7 linked regions of the Homo sapiens genome follow. The protein of the gene in region 2 purifies or fractionates together with the protein of the main gene of each other region. This does not show direct contact. Each region holds a gene or a part of one and is shown on either strand. Other genes may lie near its edges. The genes, in order: APIP, ISOC2, IFT172, ALAD, GTPBP1, HBS1L and FH.

Region 1 (3,500 bases), on a different chromosome or scaffold from region 2:
CCAGCTTCTCTCATTTCATGAAAGGCAAGAAGCCCAGTTCCTCCACTAGAGCTCAGGATCTCCAAGCCCTCTCACCTTCTATAATTATTTCTCTCCTTCTCCCCGTGTCTCCTATTAGGAATCATTTCCTTTCTGGTAAGACTGTTGTCATCAGCTTTCAAGCCCTTCCACATCTTGCCCCTACAAATTTATCTTCCGCCACCCTCAGCACTTCCTCACTCTGCTCTAGCCAACTGATCTTCCGCCTGTGAAGTACTTGCTCACTTCAGAGCCTTCACACCTGCTGTTTCCTCTGCCTGGAGTACTTGCCTCTCTCAACACAAAACCTTGCACACACACACGTACTCATTCATCACACACTGGCTTAGTTCATGTCTTTTAGGTCCTAGATTAAATGCCACCTGCTCAGAGAGGCCTTCCTTGACTGCGTTAATCAAAGTTGATCCCTGCCGTTTTTCTCCAAGTCCCATGTTTCTTTCCTGCTTGGCACTTTTTACAGTTTATTTATGTATTCTGTTTACTTTTTAAAAACTCCTCCCCAGAGTGTGAATTCTTTTAGGTCAGGCCCTGGGAATTCAGGTCCAGTTTATAGCTGAATTCCCAGGGCCTAGAAGAGTGTTCAGCACATGGTAATGTTTCTGACCCACATCCCAGGGAACGATATCATCCACTCAGCTACTCAGCTGACCACACACTTGGGAGTCTTTGAAGCCTTCGTTTGTCTCCTTCAGTTTTCTCACCCCAAGTCCTTCATCTTCCAAATGCATCTTCACAGTCCCTTCCTTCCAGCTTCCTTTTTAAACTCTTTCAGCAGCCTCCCTGCTCTTCTGGGCTTTTGCTTTCTTGACCACTGCCTTTCAGCCTCTTTCGTTTACTGACACTGTGCAAATGTTTCCAAAACAGACTCTTATCACATATCTTACGTTTCAAACTCTTTGGTGGTTTTCAATCATCCATGAAATATAGGTCAAAGCCCTGTGCATAGCATAGAAGACCCTTTAGACTCAGCCTCCCTTTTACCTCCATCCTGCAGAACCTAATTTATAACCACTTCCAGCTACTAAGCATTCTTTCTGACTGAAATGCCCTTTCTCCTCTTCACCTACCCAGCATATACTCCCACCGTCCTTCATTAAGACAGATATAAGAAATACCAACATAGAACAGACTACTGGTGTTAATTCAGAAGTCTGGAGATCACTGATCCAGATTATTAATAGAAGGAGACTGATGCCCAGAAAGTATCACTGACTTGCCTTAGGGCACACAGCTAGTGGGGTCCAAGCTAAAAACAGGCTCCATGTCTTCTGATTTCTAGTCAACACTTGACTGATGAGGAGGAGGAGGGTTTTTAAGTGTGGTGAAGGTAGAAGAGAGAGCTGGGGCATTCAAGTAAAGAAAACCAAGATGCATAGAGAGACAAGTGCAACAAGTGTGCAGAATGAAACGAAGACCAAGGACAGAGAGAAAGTATGACTCATCTTTACTGTGCCTGCATTCAGTCCCTTCCTGAGCCCAGTGTCAGGAAAATAAGTGAAAGACTTTGAAACAAACAAAAAGAGTATTTACTGGGTATCTTGGAGTTATTATTATGCTATTTTACAACTCTCAGTTGTGGAATCCTGGCAGTTAACGCAGGTGATTGTTGTTCATGGAAATGCAAGTTGTGTTCAATGGAGATTCATTTTATTGTTAACCTGTGGACAGTATCCAGTTTTGCTAAGTCAGGATTCCTCGTTACTTATATTATGTATGTTTTGAATTCTCCTTTTGAATCAGTTGTAACATCTTACTAGTTTCCCCATTTATTGATGAGTTACTAATCTCATGCATGTTATTTTATACTTGTATGAGAGTCTTCCAGGAAAACCTGTATCTGAGGAATATATGCCTATATTTGCTTAAGTTGAAAGAAAAGATGGGGGAGGGGATTAGAGCCATTGTTGGCTGTGAGTAGTATCTCGGAGACAAGCCAGGCTGATTTCCTTAAAATAACTAGATTGAAAAATTGGAAAAATTAATACCAAATCAAAACTTGTTAGACATTAATGATTTTGATATATACAAAATGCTGTTAAATGTGTTTCCTCCTCACTGTAGAACCTCTACTATAAATAGTTGATTGTAATCAATCTTTAGATACACATTTCAAAATTATTATTATAACTGAAAACCAGATCTAACAATAATAGGAAAGTAATATTGACATTCAGGAGAGAACTAGATACCAATTGAACCTTTCCTTCTTGTCAATTCTTGTTAAAATATATGTTCTGGTAGTTACTTTCTTCTGGACAGTTTAAATGACTTCATTTTCACCAAGTATATCTCTGTTGGTGCCTGCTAAGTGATAATCTCTTTGAAATTTTAATTTTATGGGTCTCAAGGATTGAAAATGTATTAACAGCAGCTGCCTTGTCATTGTTATTGCTTTAGCTTGAAGCTGGCTAATTGCTGTAATATCGCAGCACTGGAAAAGACAAAAGAGAAAGGGGAGACCTGTAATAAAAGACCATTTTCTGTAATGTGTGCTATTTGCTGTGCAAATTGATGGTTTTAAGGGTTGGAAGACTGCAGGAGTCTTCCCATTAGCTGTACTTTAAAATGTAGTTAAAATATCACTTATATCCCTAAATAAGGAAGTAGCAAATTATACAGGCATAGGTAATTTGGGCTAGATTTCTTAAGGACGGATATAAGAAATACCAACATAGTTTTTCCTTAATAACTCCTGTAATATTCCCTTCCTGAGGAGATGTCACCCTAACTGCTGTTAGGGGGTTTTGGGCAAGAACTCTTTCTGGCTACTTCCTGCCGAAAAGGGACATCAAGTGGGGAACAACAGCTAGGGCTCCTCCTGGGGTTGATCTAAGGGTCCTCGGAAGAATGGCACGTCCACGTGTGGTTCGGTTTGCAGCACCATTTGGATTGATTGCTTCTAGGCAAGAGGAAATGATTTGAGTTATAGTATTGAGTATGCAAGGTCCAAATATTAATACAAGACATATAAGTAGGAGTGGACTTAATAAAGGAGCTAACCAATTCCATAAAGAAGACTAGAATTCATTAAAGAGGAATTGTAGCCACCCGGGGCTGAAGCCTGCGTGTTCTTGTAGCCTCTTAATGATTTTGATTTGATCTTTAGGTAGCTGTAGATTTTCCTCTGCTTTACTAGAGGTGTTAATCCAGAAGCAGCATGTTTCATTTATAAGTGCACAGGTACCTCCTACTTCAGCTGTGAGGACGTCTAAGCCCCGTCTATTCTGTGCTGCTACTGTGGTGAAAGAGTCTGTAGATTGCTGTCGTGCCTCTATGGTACCTACAGTTGCCTTCCACCCTTGTTGCATCATAATAGAAATAGTAAGTACTGATCTTTCAAGGAGAGGGAAGCCCGTAATCCAGACTAGACCTCTGGCTATAGAATTTCCCATTCATGGTTTTTCTAAGATGGGATTGTCATGTGCATGCCCTCCCCAGTCTGCTCTTTCAGTTAAATCTCC
Region 2 (3,079 bases):
CTGACCAGAAACCTCCACTTCCCTGCAGGACCCCCATCCTGACCTGGGCCCTCTCTCCTCACCTGTGGGCCCCATCCTATCTTGGATCCCCTCCTGACCTGGGGGCCCCTTCCTCTGATCCGAGCCTCCCTCCTCCCCATTCTGGGCCCCTAATTCTGACTCACCATCCCCAATTCCTTACCCAGGACCCCCGTTCTTATCCGGGGTTGGCCCTGACCTCTCTCTACCCACAGAACACGACCCTGGACCTCCTAGACCGGGGGCTGCAGGTCCATGTGGTGGTGGACGCCTGCTCCTCACGCAGGTGAGAGGGCCCCTGCCTGGGTGGGTGCACGTGGGGGCCATCAGGGGCTCCCAGGAAGGGCCACAGGCGGCATTCCCACCAGGGTGCCTGCGTGTCTGGGTGTCCAGACTGCGGCGTCCACACCAACCTTCCCTCCCTCCCTCCCACTCACAGCCAGGTGGACCGGCTGGTGGCTCTGGCCCGCATGAGACAGAGTGGTGCCTTCCTCTCCACCAGCGAAGGGCTCATTCTGCAGCTTGTGGGCGATGCCGTCCACCCCCAGTTCAAGGAGGTAATGCCCGCCTGGCCGCCCCCACCTCCCCTGCATCTGTCAAAGGTCTTGTCTTTGGGCTCTGAGAATACATCTCGGCACCAGCAGGCTGCCGCCTCCAGGGGGAGCCAGGTTCTTGGAGGGGAGGCTGCTGGTCACTGTCACTGCCATAAATCCATGAAAGGAGCCCACAGATGGACCATAAGGGCCACAGAGAACAATAAAATGGGGGAGGCAATCCAGAGGGTCAGGGCACAGAGGAGGGGGTTTGTATTGGAGGGTCTGGGGGGCATCCTGGAGCAGGTGACTTTAGAATGAACTGAAGGAGGGAGTGACCAGGCGGACACTGGGGAAGAACAGGTCAGCAGAGACCCTCTAGATAGAAGCCCCTTGACCCGTCCACACCCATCTCCAACTCTCCATCTCCTCCGCCTCTGCCCCTTCCGGCCCGGGTGCCCCTCCTCCAGTTTCTCAGACTCCACTGGCCACCCTGCTACCGGGGTCAGCCAGGTACTGGGCCCCCCTGCTTCAAGCCATTGGCCCTCAGGATGCTGGAGAGGCCCCAGACCTTGACATTCCCAGGCCCTCCCAGGTCTGCTCCTTACCTTCCTTCTAGTTCAGCTCTGTGGGACATTCACCGAGCACCCACTCTGTGCCAGCCACTGTGGTGAGCCCTGGAGTCTGCAGCAATCCATGTTCAGTGACACATTGTGACCCCCAGCTGGGGCAGGAGTTGCAGAGGGATGAGCAAGAGTGGCAGAGGTGGCCCTGAATTCTGAGCTGCCGGGGAAGGGGGCATCAGGCACTCACAGTGTTCCCAGGGGAGGGGGACTGAGCTTTCTTTGAGGAGCTGTAGCAGGCCAGGGTGAGCACCACGCGGGAGGAGCCAGCAGCCTGTCTTCACGCAGGAGTCAGAGCCCAGAGGTTTGAGATTTCAGCCACGGGCAGCCATCAGGGTTTGATGCAGGGGAGCTGGCCATATCAGATCGGCAGTTTACAAAGTTCTTTCTGGCCCTGTGTGACCAGTGGATTAGGGAGTGTGGCATAGAGGGGAGGAGGGAGACCTGTCAGTAAGGAGGTTAATTTGGGCGCCCAGGCAAGCGGTGATGAGGCAGGGGGGATGCAGGCTTTTTTGTTGTTGTTGTTGTTTATTTATTTATTTATTTATTTTATTTTCTGGAGATAAACTTGCTGGGACTTGCTGATGGATGAAATGCGGTTGGTTGCTCATGTCTATCTAAGAGGCAGTTAGATAGATGAGTCGAGTTCAGGGGCAAAGTCCAGGCTGGATTTGTGAGCTGAGGGCCCAGAAGAGGGATGGGAGAAATGAGGTTACTTAAGAAGAGGAAGGTGTAGACAGGAAGCCCCAGCACAGAGCTGTCCACCCTTAGTGGTCCAAGCCCGCAAAGCACACCAAGATGGCAGGCAGTGAGGAGCTCAACCAGTCACGTGTAATGAAAGGGAGGCCCCAGGAAAAGTCTTGAGAAGAGGGAGTGTTGTCTTGGGCAGCTGCTAGCCAGAAGGTCCGAGAGATGAAGACGGAGAGGTGTCCCTCAGATTTGTCATCCATGGAGATCGGGACCCTAGACGCTTCCTGACCCATCGCCCCCTGCCCTTACAGATCCAGAAACTCATCAAGGAGCCCGCCCCAGACAGCGGACTGCTGGGCCTCTTCCAAGGCCAGAACTCCCTCCTCCACTGAACTCCAACCCTGCCTTGAGGGAAGACCACCCTCCTGTCACCCGGACCTCAGTGGAAGCCCGTTCCCCCCATCCCTGGATCCCAAGAGTGGTGCGATCCACCAGGAGTGCCGCCCCCTTGTGGGGGGGGCAGGGTGCTGCCTTCCCATTGGACAGCTGCTCCCGGAAATGCAAATGAGACTCCTGGAAACTGGGTGGGAATTGGCTGAGCCAAGATGGAGGCGGGGCTCGGCCCCGGGCCACTTCACGGGGCGGGAAGGGGAGGGGAAGAAGAGTCTCAGACTGTGGGACACGGACTCGCAGAATAAACATATATGTGGCTGTGGACCAAACCATTCTTGGGTTGGGGGGGATCCCGGGGGCGACTGGGGGCTGCAGGAGGGAGAAAGCGGGGTCCCCAGCAGGTGGGGGGGGGGAGGTGCCTCTTCTCGGCGCGAGGCAAAGGCGAGGGCTGGCGGCTGACACATCTGCACGGACGCGGCGCATCTGCTCGGAGGAGAACTGCGGCCGGGGTCGCCCCCAGCCGGCGCGCGCACGCCCAGCCCAGCTGCCGGCAGACACGCGCTCCGCCGCCGCCTCCGGCCGCCCCCCACGCCGCCACCCCCGGCTCCCCAAGGGTCCCGCATCCGGAAAGCGAGGTGAGCGAGACCGCACCCAGGTGCGGAAGGGAAACTGAGGCAAGGGGACATGGAGACGGGAGGAAGGAAGACACAGCCATGTGGATGGGTGGATGGATGGATGGAAGGATGGATGGACGGATGGAAGGAAGGGCTGAAAGCATTGTAGTCCCGGCTCCCCCAGACGCAGGAGTTCCGGGACCCACAT
Region 3 (3,500 bases), on a different chromosome or scaffold from region 2:
ACCAAAAGGAAAGAGGCTACAATCATTGGACTCAAGGGCACAACATATTAATGGGATAAAAGGGAAAAACTAGCCCTGCCTACACACAATTTTTTGTCCCTTTTGTGACCTAGGGTAAAGTATGAATTTCTCTTTCCTGCCTTTAATGCCAGAATTTTAGGTCAGGGTCAAAAGGAAAGAGGAGATTCTATAGTGTCAGGGAACAGTGCTTTAGGATAAGGCAGGATTTTTTTCTAGTTTGGTGAAAGTCACCAATCCAGAAAGGGATTACTAGTAACACACCACACAGAGCCGTGAGCCATCCCGCTTCCAGGCCAAGGCAGTGATGGTGTATAAATTGGTAATCTCCTTGGGCTTTGCCTCTTCCCAGATGCTTCTTCGAGGGATCCAGTTGAACACCCGAAGCCTGAAATAAAGTATGTGGCTTTTAGAAGAGATTGAGGCTGAGCTAAAGAGTGCAAATGGGCTGATAACCAAAGGAAATTAGTCTTGCTATATCAGAAAAGAAAGGAAATAAAAAGAACAGACAAGCTAGGCAGTCTAGCAGAAGAGGATATAAAGGTGCACAGGAAATAAGCTGGGAAAATCAAGGCAAAACTAAAACAGAATAAGAGTGAGGGGAGCAGAGAAAACAAAAAGACCAGGGCAGGTGAGAAAAATAAGCTACTAGGAGCAAAAAAATATGGAACAAGGAGATAAATGGTAGGAGTCAGTGAAGAAAGAAGAGAATACAAGGAGACATAAGATTGAAGGGGATAGAAAGACAGGACTGATAAAGCTGGGGTTAAACACATGCCAGAGAAATGATGAGACCTGGAACATGGCTGTTTATCTGCTGTTCCATCATTCATTCATTCATTCGCCAAACATCTGAGCATATCTTAAATATATATAGCATATAGATGCTAATCTAGGCACTGAAAAGATGAATAATAAGCCCCCTTCTCAAGGACTCTGATTTAGCCATCTATCTGGCTAAACAACAGTAGTTTGCAAACAACAAACTGTAATATAATGTGAGAAACTCTAAGCGGTCTCAAAGGGGGCAATGGAAACAGAAAATAGAGATGAATTCTGCTGTGGAAGTGCAGGGAGCGGCACAGAGACAAAACAAGAGCCCAGGACATTTTGGAACTGCCAGCACACCAATGGATAGCGGGAGCAGGAAGAGGAAAGCGCATGAATTACATACATACATTTGATTCTGCTCCAGTCTCGCACTCTGGCTCAGAATAATTTGGCTAAAGCAGAGAGTGTTCGCAGGGAAAGTAGGCAGTAGATAAAACTGGAAAGGGGACTTACCTGTCATAACTTCCTAGCACAACAGACTGGCCCCCAGGACTTGATACAGCTGTGGTGAACTCCCGCTCCTGAGGGTCACGGCTATAATCAAAAGTTTGTAGCATGTGACCTTCTTTTCCATAGGCTACAATTTTCCGATCACAGCCTGCAGCCACGATGCTATTGGTTGCCCATGCCAAGGCATAGGGTGGACACGGGTGGTTAACCAACTTCCCCTAAGACAGAAGTAGAGGGTTTCAATCACTCTTCGAAGACTCCACCCGAGAAATTCCTCACTCTCAACACCTGGTACATTCACTCTGACCATCATACCCTGCAGAAATCTCTTCCAACATTTCCCTATCCCAACACATCCTAATCCTGAACTCTTCACAAATTGTCACACACACACACACACACACACACACATACACACACACACACACCCCTATACACATAGGGGTTGACCTTGTGCTCTAGAAAAACCTCAAAATGCTTGTATATTGGAATTTTCTTTTTTCTTTTTTTTTTTTTTGAGACAGAGTCTCACTCTGCCGCCCAGGCTGGAGTGCAGTGGCACAATCTCATCGCTGCAACCTCCGCCTCCCCAGGTTCAAGCGATTCTCCTGTCTCAGCCTCCTGAGTAGCTGGGATTACAGGTGTGTGCCACCATACCAGGCTAATTTTTCTGTTTTTAGTAGAGATGGGGTTTCACCATGTTGGTCAGGCTGGTCTCGAACTCCTGACCTTGTGATCAGCCCGTCTCAGCCTCCCAAAGTGCTGGGATCACAGGCGTGAGCCACCACGCCCAGCATGTATTGGAAATTTTTAATATGCACCTGGTAAAGCTCCTCAGAAAAGGAGATGTGCTACACATTAACCAACACCGTCTGGGCCCACAAAGAGCATAGGGCTTCTTTTTTTAAGGAGGGTCAAATTTCAGTATTATACGAATAATTCTTCTTTTTTTTTTTTTTTAGATGGAGTCTCACTCTGTCGCCGGGGCTGCAGTGCAGTGGCGCGTTCTCACCTCACTGCAACCTCCCCTCCCGGGTTCAAGCAATTCTCCTGCCTCAGCCTTCCGAGTAGCTGGGATTCCGGGCACGTTCCACCATGCCCGGCTAATTTTTATATTTTTAGTAGAGACGGGGTTTCACCATGTTGGCCAGGCTGGTCCTGAACTCCTGACCTCAGGTCATCCACCCGCCTTGACCTCCCAAAGTGCTGGGATTACAGGAGTGAGACACTGTGCCCGGCCTATACAAGTAATTCTTTTTTTTTTTGAGATGGCATTTCACTCTTGTTGCCCAGTCTGGAGTTCAATGGCATGCGATCTTGGCTCACTGCAACCTCTGCCTCCCAGGTTCAAGCGATTCTCCTGCCTCAGCCTCCCAGAAAGCTGGGATTACAGGCATGTGCCACCACGCCCAGCTAATTTTTTTGTATTTAGTAGAGACGGGTTTCACGTCAGGCTGGTTTCCAACTCCTGACCTCAGGTGATCCACCCGCCTCGGCCTCCCAAAGTGCTGGGATTACAGGCACGGCTCACAAGTAATTCTTAATGTAAATGATTCAAACAACACACAATTATATAGAGTAAAACATGAAAGTTTCCTTTTTATCCCCCATCTTTTTCCTTTCCCCTTTCCAGAGTAAACTATTAACTCTTTTTTCTATGAATCTACATACATAAATATATATATTTTACATAAATGGGAATAATTTTCACTTTTCATTACTCTAAGAGTTTTTATTTCCCTTTGTCTCAAGGTCCCTTTCACCTAATTCATCCCTTCTTATAAGCAGTAAGCTCCAGGCTCCTAAACACAAATCCTCTCAGTGGCCACATCCAACTTTTTCTCTGTCCCTGAGTTCTCCTCTAGCTTCCTCTCTTAGTATCTCAATCCAAATGCCTTAGAAGTCCAACCTCCTCTAGGAGGGCTCCTGGAATTTCCTTATCCCCTATTCCACAGCATCTTTTTTTTTTTTTTTTTTTGAGACACGGTCTTGTTCTGTCACCCAGGCTGTAGTGCAGTGGTGCTATTTCAGCTCACTTGCAGGCTCAACCTCCTGGGCTCAAGTGATCTTTCCACTTCGGCTTCCTGAGTAGCTGGGACTACAGGCCCATGCCACCATGCCCGACTAATTTTTGTATTTATTTTTTGTTTTTTTGGTAGAGACAGGGTTTCACTGTGTTGCCCATGCTGGTCTCAAACTCC
Region 4 (2,736 bases), on a different chromosome or scaffold from region 2:
GGCCTCAGTTTACCAAAGAATAAAATGCACAGTGAAGGAAATAGGTAAGAGGCAAGTTCCTTCCCATGCTGGTGTGCAATTCTAACAAAATGAGTCCCCTTTATGGAGTGATATTACTTCATTTAATCCTCAGGACAACCACGCACCAGGTATCTTATCCCCAGTTATCCAGTTATGGGTGAGGACACTGAGGTTCAGAGAAGTGGCTTGCCCACGTTCTCACAACCAAAAATGAAGGGCTCTGCTTGCTTCACCGGGCCGTGTTCTATGCTGCAGTTCCATATCTCTTCCTCAGTGTGTGTCTGTTTAGATCACTAGTAATTCCCGGAATAAGATCCCAAGCTCTCAGGACGTCGTTCCCCAATCTAGGCAGAGTGCTTATCAGTCCCTGTGGCGCAGGTCAAAACACCCCACCCTTGCCTGCCTACCTGCTCTGCGGAAGGCAGTCATGGCCTCCAGTACGGCAGCCTTGAGATCAAATGCCCCGGCCTGGGCTCCATGCCACAGCATGGCAAACTCTCCAGAGACGTGGTACACGGCGAGAGGGAGGTCAGGGTGCTGCAGGGAAGCAGACAGGGAGACAGGCTGAAATGGAGGGTGGATGTGGCTCTGGAAGCGTCCCTTCCCCCCTGCTCAATCTGTGACCATCTTGAGCCCCGTGTCCTGGGTTACTGCGGCTGGCAGCCTGGCCCACTCTTGAACTGTTAAAGCAGGGCTGTTTGAGGCTCGTGCAAGCCCCGACATAGAAGGCCACGATGGTTCCTGGGCAGGGAAGGGGAGGAGAGGATGCATGCTTAAGGGCAAACTGCTTCCAACTCTGAGATTCCAGAGTCTGTGGAAAACTCTGTCCCAGCCCCCTGAGCCCCCTTTGCCTCGTACCTGTGCTCACCTTGTCCTTTACCTCCCGCACGATGTCCAGGTAGGGCATTCCCGGCTTCACCATGAGCATGTCAGCTCCTTCCCGTACATCCCGGTCCTAAGGGATGAGGGTATAATGTGGGTGGTGCCTAGGAGGGGGCTGAGGGTGGGGCTCAAGTCCTAGTCACTCACCACAGCTCGGAGAGCCAGGCCTCGTGCTCCAGGGGGCAGCTGGTAGCAGCGGCGGTCCCCAAAAGCTGGGCTTGACTTAGCTGCATCCCTGCAAAGCAGAGTCATCAGGGTGGGCTCCAGCTTTGGGCCAAAGGGCCAGGGATTCACAGCAGACCCCTGCCCACCCCTGCTCACCGGAAAGGGCCATAGAAACAGGAAGCAAATTTGGCACTGTAGCTCATCACCGATACCTATGGGGAGACAATGGAGGTCTTGGCTTATTCGGCCCTTGCCAGGTATCCCAGGGTGATGTGGCAGGGAGAGAAAGAACCTAGGCTGGGAAGGAGACTGCCTGTGTTCTGGTCCTGTTGGAGTGCTGGGCTTGATTTCCCTGCAGAGGCCCAGAGGTTTAAATGGTTCCCCAAAGCCTCATCCAGCACTGTCTTCAGTTCTGTGATTCTTTTTTTTTTTGAGATGGAGTCTAGCTCTGTCATCCAGGCTGAAGTGCAGTGGCATGATCTCAGCTCACTGCCTCGTGGGTTCAAGCGATTCTCCTGCCTCAGCCTCCCCAGTAGCTGGGATTACAGGCGCCTGCCACCACGCCCAGCTAATTTTTGTGTTTTTAGTAGAGATGGGGTTTCACCATGTTGGCCAGGCTGGTCTTGAACCCCTGACCTCAAGTGATCTACCTGCCTCAGCCTCCCAAAGTGCTGGGACTACAGGTGTGAGCCAACACGCCCGGCAGTTCTGTGATTCTTAGCAGACACGGGGGCAGGGCTGGTGCAGACTATCTCCTGCCAGCCCTGTGCTGCATTCCCTGCCCTTACCCTGTTGCCAAGTCCATGTGCCATCAGGGCCTCTTTGATGGCTTCCACGCGTCCATCCATCATGTCCGACGGGGCTACCACCTGACATCCTGGGGGGCAGAGGGTGGCCTTCAGAACTCTGGGGCCCTCCTAGCCACTCTGCCACCTCCTGACCCAGAGGTGCCCATCCCTGCTGGTGGTTCACTCACCTGCCTTGGCATACGCCAATGCCACCTCAGCCAGCCGCTGGCGGCTCTCCTCAGCCCGGAATGCTCCGTTTTCACTCAGGAGCCCTTCAGGACAGATGACTGGGTTTTGGGGAGCACCTTGGGCCCTGGCCTGTCCCCACCCTGTTGAGAAGTGGGCAGTAGGAGTGTGGGTGGCAGCAGGGCTGGTGGGAGGGAGGGAACTCACCGCAGTGACCATGGGAGGTGTAGGGACACAGGCAGACATCACAGGCCACCAGGAGGTTGGGGAAGGTCTTCCTCAACAGATGGATTGCCTCAATAGCTGGGGACTCCTCGGAGTCAGCTGCGGAACCCCGCTCGTCCTAGGGGCAGGGGAGGGACAAAGCAGTGTGTCTATTACATGTAGCTTTGGAAGGCAGGATGACAGCCATCACAGAGCATAGCCCTGGCCTTCTCCTTCCTTCATCATCACAGCCCCTGGATAAGGAAGCACAGAGGACTGACCCTACATGGGTGCTGACTTAAGGGCAAAGACCACGTCCATTCACCTGTGGCCCCAGGGCCAGCACAATGTGGGAGTGAGGGTGCAGTCAGTGTGGACCCTCAGTCCACCTTTGCCCAACCTCCCTTCCTTTTTCTGTTTGTATTGGAGACAGGGTCTTGCTCTGTCACCCAGGCTAGAGTGCACTGGCGCGATTTTGGCTCACTGCAGC
Region 5 (3,500 bases), on a different chromosome or scaffold from region 2:
TCCATGTCAGCTTCACTCAGCCCATACTCAGTCCCATCTGGTGACAAGAGCCCAGACATCAGCAGGAGAGGGAGTCCTGACCAACCAGCCTGCCAACCAGCCAGCCAGGAACCCCACCTAACAAAGGCCACCACCCCCCGACCCCAGCACTGCAGAGGAACAGGGGTCCTCTCTACCTGAGAGAAAACCTGGGCACACACCAAGTTAAAACATGACAGTGCCACAGACCTCTCCATCAAGCAGAGCATTCGCTACTTCATTCAACAACAGCCACCGAGGCTCTCCCAGGTTTTATGCCAAGCCTCATGCTGGGTACTAGGACTACAGGTGCCCCTAGTGAGCTCACAGCCCAGTGGGGGAGGCAGACAGGAAATTAATTAATTGCAATACAGCTCAAGTGCTGCACTCTAGGACTGTGTGAAGAGAACATAAAGCACTGCCTGGGGAAGCCGAGGACAGTTCTGCAAAGGGCTGATGCCAAGCTAGGTCAACAAGTGCTGGGCCTGCAGAAGGAGGAAGGACATCCTAGCCAGAGGAACAAAGCGTGGCGTGGCAGATCATGGCAAGTTCAGGGACCAGGAAGCAGCTCAGTGTGTTGAGGAGCAGCATGGGTGACATGGAGTGTCGGGAGACTACATGAGAGGTGGAAGCAGCACAACAGACGGACAGCAGCGACACACCTTCTGCACCAGGCATTGAGACACCCGTAGGCTGAGGCAGGGGAGTAACATGATCAGATGGCTGTGGGTTAGAAAGATCTCCTGAGTAGCAGTGCCAAGTGTGCACCAGCAAGTGAGAGACCAGTAAGGGGGGAGTCCAGTTAGGAAGTAATTCTAATAATGCAGGCAAGAGATAATGACGACAGAAAGATGGAGGAAAATGGGGGAGGAACTCAGAAACATTTTAGAGATAAGATTTTTAACTGAGGTGGCTCAGGTGACATGTCCAGCAAGCAGCTGGAGAAATGAGTTTGAGCTCAGGACAAGGAAGGGAATCAGACAGAAGGCAGGACCAACCGACCAAACAGTTACTGAGCTCCTACTATATGACAACCCGTCAGCTGCTTTCCATGAGGTGCTGGATTTAATTTCCACAATCACTCCCTCAGCCTTTCCCAGCTGTCCTGTCTCTGAGAGCACCCCTGCTCCTTCCCTGGCTGGCTAACCCCTTCAGCATGTGTGACTCTCTTCCCCCGCACCAAATATTCTCCTTGTCTCTTCTTCTCTTCCTCCCACTCCAAACAAGCTCCTAAACTAAGGAAAGGAAAACCACCCCCCTTCCCTTGCCCCTGCTTATCTGCAAAGCTACCATCTCCTGTTTTTCCTTTCACCATCAAACATCTCGAGAGTCATCAACGCGTGTTGACTGTACTATCCCACCATCTACTCAATGGGAATCTGCCCACTACAGAAGAAACCGCAGTTGTCACATGCCACCAGTGGCCTTTTTTTTTTTTTTTTTTTTTGAGATGGAGTCTCACTCTGTCACCCAGGCTGGAGTGCAGTGGCACAATCCTTGCTCACAGCAACCTCTGCCTCCCAGGTTCAAGCGATTCTCCTGCCTCAGCCTCCCAGGTAGCTGGGATTACAGGCGCCCGCCATCATGCCTGGCTAAGTTTTGTATTTTCAGTAGAGACGGGGTTTCACCATGCTGGCCAGGCTGGTCTCGAACTCCTGACCTCAAGTGATCTGCCCGCCTTGGCCTCCCACCAAAGTGCTGGGATTACAGGCGTCAGCCATCATGCCTGGCCCACCAGTGGCCTTCTAAACTCTCTAATGCCCTCTTCTTGACTCCTACAGCATTCGATACTGCTGGCCACTCAGCCTTTCCCTCTTGAAGCACTTCCCTCCCACCCTGCTCACGCATCACCTGACCTCTCCTGATGTGCCTCCCCACCCCGTCCCCCGCTCTTGTCTCCTGAATGCCAGTTTTTTCCAGTAGTCTGTCAGTGGCCCTGTTCTGTTTCCTCCAAACTTTCCCCTTGGCCATCTTGTTCTATGGCTTTGGCTGTCATTTTGAAAACTATAAAAACACTCATTTCTAACACCATCCTATGCCCAGAACTCCAGACTGAATTTCCAATTGCCTGGATAACTCCTAGAAGTCTGATATCCAAACTCAACACCCAACCCAACCCTCTTTTAAACAACAGCACAGACACTAACAATGTTAATAAAGCATTTTATTTCTCACTGTAATCTTATGAGGTAGGCATTACTGTTCCCTTTTAACAGTGGGGTAAAAAGAACCTAGGGAGATCTCAGAGCTTGGGGGAGGCCATGAGTTCAGGTCTTCAGATTCCAAAACCAGAGCCTTTTCCTCTTACTGCCTGACCAGTTCCTTCTTTATTTCTGACAATGACAATACCATCTCTCTAGCCACCAGTCTCCTCAGTCCAGTCCTGATGATTCTAGCATTTTACCTTGCCTCCTTCCCTGATGTCTGCCCTTTTTGCCAATCCGCAGCCACCAGCCTGATTCAGGCTGTTATTCTACCTGAACCACCACAACAGACTCTTAACTTTTGTCTTTACAAATTCAGTCTCTATTCCCTCCAACCAACCCCTTAAGGTCCTAAATAAAGCACAACTCTGACGCCGTCACTTCAAGTCAAAGCTTATGAATGGCTCCCCAGGCCCAACTGCTTAACAGCCTCCCCATTTGTGCCGTACTCCCTCCTCACTTTCTTCTTGTAAGCTCTGTCATGGTGCAAGTGGCCCCATCACACACACAGCACTCCCCTTCCTTGTGCTGGGGTTCTCTGCAGGGTCCTAGCTCTACACCTTTGCTCATGGATTTCCTATCCTGAAAGCCCAACAGCGCACCTCCTCCTAGCAAAATCCTACTCATTCTGCCCACAAATGTCTGTGTCTCCCTTACATTTGCAATGTACTGCCTTGTGCAACAGTGTTTTGGATACACATCCTCCCCTCCCCGCACAATACATAAGCATCTTGAAAACAAGGAACATACCGCAACAATTTCCTGATGCCCCACAACCAGTGCCTTTCCTCAAATGTTTGTAAAATGTAAAACAAATGAACAAAGAGGGAGCGGTTGGGCTGAGGAGTTTCTAAATGCACGGCAAAGTGAGCTGTGAAAGCCTTCAGGGTTAGAGAAGGGTTTGCTGGGAGTGTTCCTAAGAAGGCTGGCTAAATTCTATTCAACCTCCCCTGCTCCTGTTCTTTCAGGTCCTGTTCCACACCAAGGGCTATCACCAACGTCACCTTGTCCATCAGGGCTCTCGGTCAGTCACATTACCCGTCTCCAGCATGCATCACATTCCTCACTCTGTGGAAGCCGAGACAAAGGTGGAGGAGAAAAGCTGCAGAGGTCCAATTACTAAAGGCCACATACTCAGCCATGCCAGACGCTAATCAGATTTCCATCCTGCCGGCTCATTCACTTTTCTTATATGTATTCTCCTCTTCTACAGGCTGCAAAGACTCCCTAGACTCTCAGAATAAAAGTCTAACCTCTTTGGCATGGCATTTAAGGACC
Region 6 (3,500 bases), on a different chromosome or scaffold from region 2:
ACTAAGTGAGGCATGAAATCAGATGTTTCCCTCAACAAGTTTCAGTCAGGAAATACTGACAGGGAAGAGGAAGTTTTCAATGCACAGGCTTCTCCTCTGCCTGCCAGGAGCTATTTTTTCTGTGGTGGGGTCGAGGGTGGTCCTATACGACCACACACACCCAACACATAACTCCAACTCAAAAACCCATACTGTGGCCACTATTTTGGAAGTAGTAATGGTTGGATTTGCAAAGGGTGGGTGGGGGGAAGAGTAAGAAAACTCCCCCAGGAGAAGTATTGGGTCGCTGCAAAAGTAACCGCAGGTCTTTCCATTACTTTCAAAGGGTGGGTGGGTGAGGTGGGGAGCGGTCCAAACCTCTGAAGTTGTACTGAGAGCCCCAAAAGCAACAAATACAACAAATAAAGGAGTGAGAGAAAGTAATGATGAGAAAATGGTAAATACAAAATGCTATTCTCTAAAATTTTAAATCACAAACTTTGATGGAAGTGCCTTCTGAAAAAACAGACACCTATAATTTTTAAAATTTAAGGCATTTTGACAAACATAAAAGTGCAAAGAATTCAAAACCTAACACCTGAAACTTCCTACAATGGTTTCCTAAACATCTTAAAATAAAAATCACATGAGGCATTCATTAAAAATACAGATTTCTAGGCTTCTTCCCCGGGAGATTATGACTCAGTGGTGCTGGAATGAAGCAGGAAATTTGTATTCTTAAGAATTATTCTGGCCAGGCACAGTGGCTCATGCCTGTAATCCCAGCACTTTGGGAGGTCCAGGCAGGTGGATCACCTGAGGTCAGGAGTTCAAGACCAGCCTGGCCAACATGGCAAAACCCCATCTCTACTAAAAATACAAAATTAGCTAGGCGTGGTGGCGGGCGCCTGCAATCCCAGCTACTTGAGAGGCTGAGGCGTGAGAACTGCTTGAACCTGGGAGCCAAGTGGAGGTTGAGGTGAGCCGAGATCGTGCCACTGCACTCCAGCCTAGGCTACAGAATGAGACTCCGTCTCAAAAAAAAAAAAATGATTCCCAGCAGATTCATATCACAAGGTAAGATTAAGAAACACTGGTGAACTACAAGTCTCCCCTTTATTCTGGCCCACCTATACGCCACTTTGTGGACCATGATCAGTTATCTGCACAAAATACTAGCTCCCTTACTCAAAAAACTCCAATAAGTTGACACTAAAAACACAAAATTAGAAACTGTCTTTCACAATTTCATTCCTATTTTCTTTCCTAGCCCTCTTTCCTCCTGCCACTTGCATTAATCCTGGTAGTCTGATGAAACAAGCCTCACTCAGAGGCCATTGCTTAAGCAACGTTGTTTCCTCTAGCTGGGATGCCATTCTTACTCCCAAATTTCCTAGCTTCAATCCCACCTCCTTCTAGAAGCCTTCCCAGACTCCTTCAGTCAGGGTTATTTTCTTTACCCACAGTACTGTTGTAGCAAGTTATTTGAACAAGACTTTAAACAAGCTTCCTTATACCAAACTAATTTATAAATGTATTAGAATAGTGTTTTTCTTACAAAAAAAAAAAAGAATATACAATAAAGGTGTGAAATTAGAATGGAGCAAACAAAGATTACTTCTAATCATATTAGCTGAAACAAAATACATCACCATTCAAATAAAGTTTTATATGCAAACTCCTTTTGCTACCCCCTACTCTTTGACATAGGTTCAATACTCAGTATCAATCTTTCTAAAAGAAAGAAAAGTTAACGTTTAAAAATCACCATCCTAGGCTGGGCATGGTGGCTCACACCTATAATCCTGGCACTTTGGAAGGCCGACACAGGAGGATCACTGGAGCTCAGGAATTTGAGACAAGCCTGGGCAGCATAGTGAGACCAGGAAAATTGAGCTTAATAGAATTCAAAAAAATATACACGTGCTGATGAATTTTAGAAAGAAATTCCAATTAATTGATAAAGTCTTTCAATTATCAGACTTCATTACACCATGAATACAATCAGCTTTTCAATGACATTAGCTGCTTAAGAATAGAAAATATTCTTCTAAAACCATTCATTTTTTATTGAAAATTACTTGGAAAATATACCACTATAGAGGAAAGTAAGTTTCTTATCTGATGTTACTGCTATTTTAAAATGTTTTGAAAAATTTAAAAATCCAAAGTCGTATGCTTTTGTTAAAAATCAGTTTGTCACAGAAGAAACCAAAAACATTTAACTATCTCCTGCTTTGATAAGATCAGTTGGCTTCTTGGTGTGTTTGAAAAGTAACTCTCAGAGTCAGACTGTCCTGAATACAAACCACAGGTAAGAGCCACATCAAAAGCTATGAGAGACACATGGATAAACTCCGTCTCTGTCCTCAAGGAAGCTAGGCCATAAATGCAAGTCTCAGAGAAACACCCTTTGAAGGTCTGACTTTGTACTATTACCTTATTATTCAAGATAACATAACATTTATCCAGAGAAGCCTAGATAAATGACTGGGTTAACCTGCAATATTAAGGTGTCTTTCAGTAATCCCCCCTCTGAAAGATTCCACGCTTATACAAAGCCATATTCAACCAACTTCCAAGTCCTGCAGACCTCAACTCCTGTAAATTTTCTCTTGAATGTATTTCCAAATCCAATGCTACCAACTCTTGCCCTAAACAAATGGTTCTCAATGCATACCACGAGCATACCCCAGTGGGCTTGTTAAAACATCTGCTATGCCTCACTCCTAGTTTCTGACTCTTGGGTGGAGTCCCCAACATTGCATTTCTAACAAACTCTCAAGCGATGCTGATGGTTCACTTTGAGAACACTGTCCTAAAATAGCCTCATCTCCTCTAGATAAATACATATAACAGTCTCCTAACGAGTCTACTTACATCCACCCATATACCACCTTTAATCCATTAACTATGTATTAGAGATTTTTTTAACTCAAATCTAATATAACCATATCATCTTCTCAGTTCTATATGCCATGCTCTCTAATGTGCTTAGAATGTGAGTGATGAGGATAGCACTACCAGACATCACTTTGTCACCTCTAATATTTAAGTTACCTAGTCAACTGTGATGCTGAATTATAGGAGCCCCAAAGGGCAAATGCCTAGGAGGTTCCTAGAAAAATGTGAAATTGTTTTATTCCTAAGTCACTACAAAATGTCTTCTCTTTTGAACCCCTGAATAAGGAGCTATAAAGGAATGCTGCTTATTAAGCCACCTCTCAGCTTCTAACCTACCATCCTTTACTCAGCTTTGTGATGCTGGATTGAAGTCACTGCAAAGCACATTTCTTCTTTGATACCCGGCTCCCTTTTAGGATCATCCAATAAGGAGATATGAAAGGGACACCGGAAAGCCAGAGAAGGCAGGCACATGCTCCTTTCCTTTTGCTTCTTGTTCCAGTATCACCCCAGCAATACTCACTTCACCTTCCAGAAGCAGTTTCTTCCAGTAACTGCAATTAATATCCGTTTTCAGTTTTTCCAAAACTCCCAGAACCAGCTTCAATTTGCCTCTT
Region 7 (3,500 bases), on a different chromosome or scaffold from region 2:
CACCCAGGCTGGAGTGCAGTAGAGTGAGCATAGCTCACTGCAGCCTGGAAATGCTGAGCTCCAGGGATCCTCATGCCTTAGCTTCCTGAGCAAGTGGGACCATAGGCATGCACCGCCATGCCTGGCTAACTTTAAAAATGTTTTCAGAGACAGGGTATTGCTCTGTGTTGCCCAGGCTGGTCTTAAACTCCTGGCCTCAATTGATCCTCCTGCCTCAGCCTCTGAAAGTGCTGAGGTTATAGGCATGAGCCACTGCACCCAGCTTGATATTATGTTTTAAAAGTACAGGGTCAACAGTTGAGGAAAGAGCACTGAGTATATACTACCTGGCTAGGTCTCAGGTTTGCCAGTTGCTAAATATTTTGGCATTTATACAGTCTCTTTGAGGGCTTGGCTTTCCTATTTTTAAAGTGGTAATCTACCTCACAGAATTTTTCTAAACTTAATAAAGAGCTGTTTATGAAAGACTGTATGCACTGTATAATTGTAAGATATTCAATTATAAGATTTTATAAGAATATATAATTCAATAATTGATGTAATTTGATATAATTATAAGATATTCAACTACATTGAAGATACTACTGCTGTCTTCAAGTGCAGTTGTTAACTATACTTCTCTGTATTTTGCTGTCATTTATTAGCAGGCAGATATAATACGTAATACATAATATAATACATAATATATTATATAATACATAATATAATATAATACGTAATACATATATAATACATAATACATTCAGTATACTTAATGTGTATAATACAGTTCTGAGTATGTGTTAGAAACCAGGATGCTGCTTATTTGATTCTATAATAACTCACCTATGACATGCCACACATACATGTAACTGAGCTGGGTTTTGAGTAGTTAGTTGGAGAGTTTTTTAATTGAGAAGTTTAATTCAGAAGTTTGTTTTTGTTGCCTCTGATTTAACATTTTATATTTCTTTTGAAAAATTTCCAACAGAGCTCAAATGATACTTTTCCCACAGCAATGCACATTGCTGCTGCAATAGAAGTTCATGAAGTACTGTTACCAGGACTACAGAAGTTACATGATGCTCTTGATGCAAAATCCAAAGAGTTTGCACAGATCATCAAGATTGGACGTACTCATACTCAGGATGCTGTTCCACTTACTCTTGGGCAGGTATAGGAGTTTGACTAATTTGATTCAATTTAGAGCTTGGTACAAATGGCCAATGTGTCATCCTTGAAATCTGACTAGCTTAAAAGGCCAAATTTGTAACCGGAAACTTCAGTGACAGAGGTTGTTCTGTTCAACCAATCAGTAATTTTCATTGACATCCACTTAGAAGAAAAGCAGAGTATACTGGCTATAAGTCAGATTCAGTCAGACTGCTCGGGTTCAAATCTTAGCTTTGCTGTGTACAAGCTATGGGACCATAGGAAAGTCATTTAGCCTTTCTGTGCCTCAGTTTTCTGAGCTACAAAATGAGGAAAATAATTTCCCTTTCATAGGATAGTTGTGAAGCTCTAGTAAGTTGATTTATGTAGAGTGCTTAGAAGCATGCCTGGCACACAGTAAGTACCCATTCATGTTAGCTACCATCATCACCACCGTCATCGCTGTCATCTCCATCAGTATCATCATGGTTTTTCTTTTGTCTTTCTTACCTAAATTAGTAGGTTATTTAAAATTTAATCTCAAAGTGATTAAATAAGGTAGATCTTTTTAAGATGGATCTGGCCGCATGTGAAGGAGATACTACTCTCTTCTCCAAGATATTAGAAAGTATTTTCATGTTTCTTTTTCAATGCCTTAAGGAATATCTAATAGTATACATTGTGAAGGAAATGTAAGGAAATACAGGGAATGACTTTTGTCTTAGTAAACTCACACTCCAATTGGGGTAGCTTAATTTCCTTATGGAAGGAATGAGGAAAACTTGAAATGAGTAATTGAAAAACAAATGATGGGACTAAATTGAACTCACTGGATTGAGTTGCTTCTTAAGGCTGTGTCTCATTTCTCTTTGCATCATTAGTACTTAGGACCATGCATAATTTCTAAGGAGGAACAGTATGTATGTTTTGAAACTTTTGAATATTTCTCAAGTTTCTAATTTTAACCTTTTTTTGGTGTTGAAAACTACAATACTAAATACCATTTGGGCCATGACTCAGCCTCCTGTGTAAAATCATCATTCTTCCTGTTAAGACAGAAAATTACATTTTTCTGTTTGACTTTATCAGAAGCATTTATACTTGCTTTTATTGGGATTGTCTTTTGAGTTCGTGCATTGTTCCCTGTCAAAGTGTATTTTATAAGTGAATCTATCTAGTGTGTTTGTGTGTGTGTGTATACATACAGTCATGTGTTGCTTAGCAATGGGGGTATGTTCTGAAAAATGCATCCTTAGGCAATTTCATAGTTATGTGAACATCACAGAGTATACTCACACAAACCTAGATGGTATAGCCTTCTATACACCTAGGCTATATGGCATAGCCTTTTCCTCCTAGGCTACAAATCTGTGCAGCATGTTACTGCATTGGATACAATAGGCAATCGTAACACAATGGTAAGTATTTGTGTATCTAAACATATCTAAATGTAGAAAAGGTACAGTAAAAATACGGTTTTATAATCTTAGGGTCCCACTGTTTATGTGATCTTTCGTTGGCTGAAACATCATTATGTGGTGCGTGACTGTATATGAGTGATGTTATATCAGATGCATCAGGTCTACCTATAATGAGTTATATCTTTTGAAATGTTTTCTTTAGAACAGTATGGCATCCTGTCACTTATGGTTTTTTAGTGTTTTCAGGCAGGAAAAAAGGATAGATTTAGTGTAACCATGTATCTTGGTTTGTCCAGTTAACTCCCAGTGTATGCCTTTTGTTTCTGCATGACTATTAATAGAGCCCTTTCTGTGTTCAAAACATAAATTCTGTGGTTGCTTTAATTAAGGCATGTCAAAATTTGGAACCAGTGTTGACATTGGCACATTGATGCTATGATCTGACTCTACCGTTACCTCCTATTCTTTTTGGAAGGTCCTTCAATGCAAACTGTTACCTTCCTGTGCTATTCAGTGAGTCATTAGCTTCCCAAGTCTCTGTAGAATGTCTTCATATTTCCTGGTAGGTTTATACACTGAAATTGTATGGAGAATATTTCTATGTTTGCATTTTTTTGGGGGAGATGAGTTACTATTTTTTCTTACACCAAAGTTGTCTGAGGCATCCCAAAAAATAAGAAATCACTTCAGTTTCTTTAGTAGACTGCAAGTAAACCAATAATTTAGTGTAGTAAAGTTGTTCTTTTTAAAGTGTATTTCCTGTGCTGTTTTTCTTTGCTTCCTATTAAAAGACTAGATTATAATAAATAGGCTGCATGTTATCAGTGGCATTGTCGTACCTTATGGTTCTATAAACCCTCATCCTTCCCTATACTTTGCTCATCATAAGATTTGAAGTAGTATAAATAAAACTTGATTAGCTTGTAATTTAGTATTCTGAAAGGTATT

The links.
Region 1: the proteins of ISOC2 (region 2) and APIP purify together in Homo sapiens (affinity purification with mass spectrometry; 2 studies listed by BioGRID and IntAct, with this or other methods). This does not show direct contact.
Region 3: the proteins of ISOC2 (region 2) and IFT172 purify together in Homo sapiens (affinity purification with mass spectrometry; one large-scale study listed by BioGRID and IntAct). This does not show direct contact.
Region 4: the proteins of ISOC2 (region 2) and ALAD purify together in Homo sapiens (affinity purification with mass spectrometry; 2 studies listed by BioGRID and IntAct, with this or other methods). This does not show direct contact.
Region 5: the proteins of ISOC2 (region 2) and GTPBP1 purify together in Homo sapiens (affinity purification with mass spectrometry; 2 studies listed by BioGRID and IntAct, with this or other methods). This does not show direct contact.
Region 6: the proteins of ISOC2 (region 2) and HBS1L purify together in Homo sapiens (affinity purification with mass spectrometry; 2 studies listed by BioGRID and IntAct, with this or other methods). This does not show direct contact.
Region 7: the proteins of ISOC2 (region 2) and FH fractionate together in Homo sapiens (co-fractionation; one large-scale study listed by BioGRID). This does not show direct contact.

The regions. Positions count from the first base shown.
Region 1 is NC_000011.10:34,906,380-34,909,879, reverse strand, and holds part of APIP (methylthioribulose-1-phosphate dehydratase), read left to right. Parts: intron 1-3,500. UniProt on the Homo sapiens protein: Catalyzes the dehydration of methylthioribulose-1-phosphate (MTRu-1-P) into 2,3-diketo-5-methylthiopentyl-1-phosphate (DK-MTP-1-P).
Region 2 is NC_000019.10:55,452,485-55,455,563, reverse strand, and holds the end of ISOC2 (isochorismatase domain-containing protein 2), read left to right. Parts: intron 1-185; coding exon of another isoform or gene 186-233; coding exon 234-304; intron 305-457; coding exon 458-575; intron 576-2,175; coding exon 2,176-2,256; 3' UTR 2,257-2,579; downstream 2,580-3,079.
Region 3 is NC_000002.12:27,479,744-27,483,243, forward strand, and holds part of IFT172 (intraflagellar transport protein 172 homolog), read right to left. Parts: intron 1,518-3,500; coding exon 1,303-1,517; intron 407-1,302; coding exon 283-406; intron 1-282. UniProt on the Homo sapiens protein: Required for the maintenance and formation of cilia. Plays an indirect role in hedgehog (Hh) signaling, cilia being required for all activity of the hedgehog pathway.
Region 4 is NC_000009.12:113,388,549-113,391,284, forward strand, and holds part of ALAD (delta-aminolevulinic acid dehydratase), read right to left. Parts: intron 2,386-2,736; coding exon 2,250-2,385; intron 2,129-2,249; coding exon 2,045-2,128; intron 1,946-2,044; coding exon 1,857-1,945; intron 1,281-1,856; coding exon 1,225-1,280; intron 1,139-1,224; coding exon 1,051-1,138; intron 977-1,050; coding exon 890-976; intron 559-889; coding exon 429-558; intron 1-428.
Region 5 is NC_000022.11:38,712,444-38,715,943, reverse strand, and holds part of GTPBP1 (GTP-binding protein 1), read right to left. Parts: intron 38-3,500; coding exon 1-37. UniProt on the Homo sapiens protein: Promotes degradation of target mRNA species. Plays a role in the regulation of circadian mRNA stability. Binds GTP and has GTPase activity.
Region 6 is NC_000006.12:135,044,823-135,048,322, forward strand, and holds part of HBS1L (HBS1-like protein), read right to left. Parts: intron 1-3,500. UniProt on the Homo sapiens protein: GTPase component of the Pelota-HBS1L complex, a complex that recognizes stalled ribosomes and triggers the No-Go Decay (NGD) pathway.
Region 7 is NC_000001.11:241,506,256-241,509,755, reverse strand, and holds part of FH (fumarate hydratase, mitochondrial), read left to right. Parts: intron 1-970; coding exon 971-1,153; intron 1,154-3,500. UniProt on the Homo sapiens protein: Catalyzes the reversible stereospecific interconversion of fumarate to L-malate. Experiments in other species have demonstrated that specific isoforms of this protein act in defined pathways and favor one direction over the other.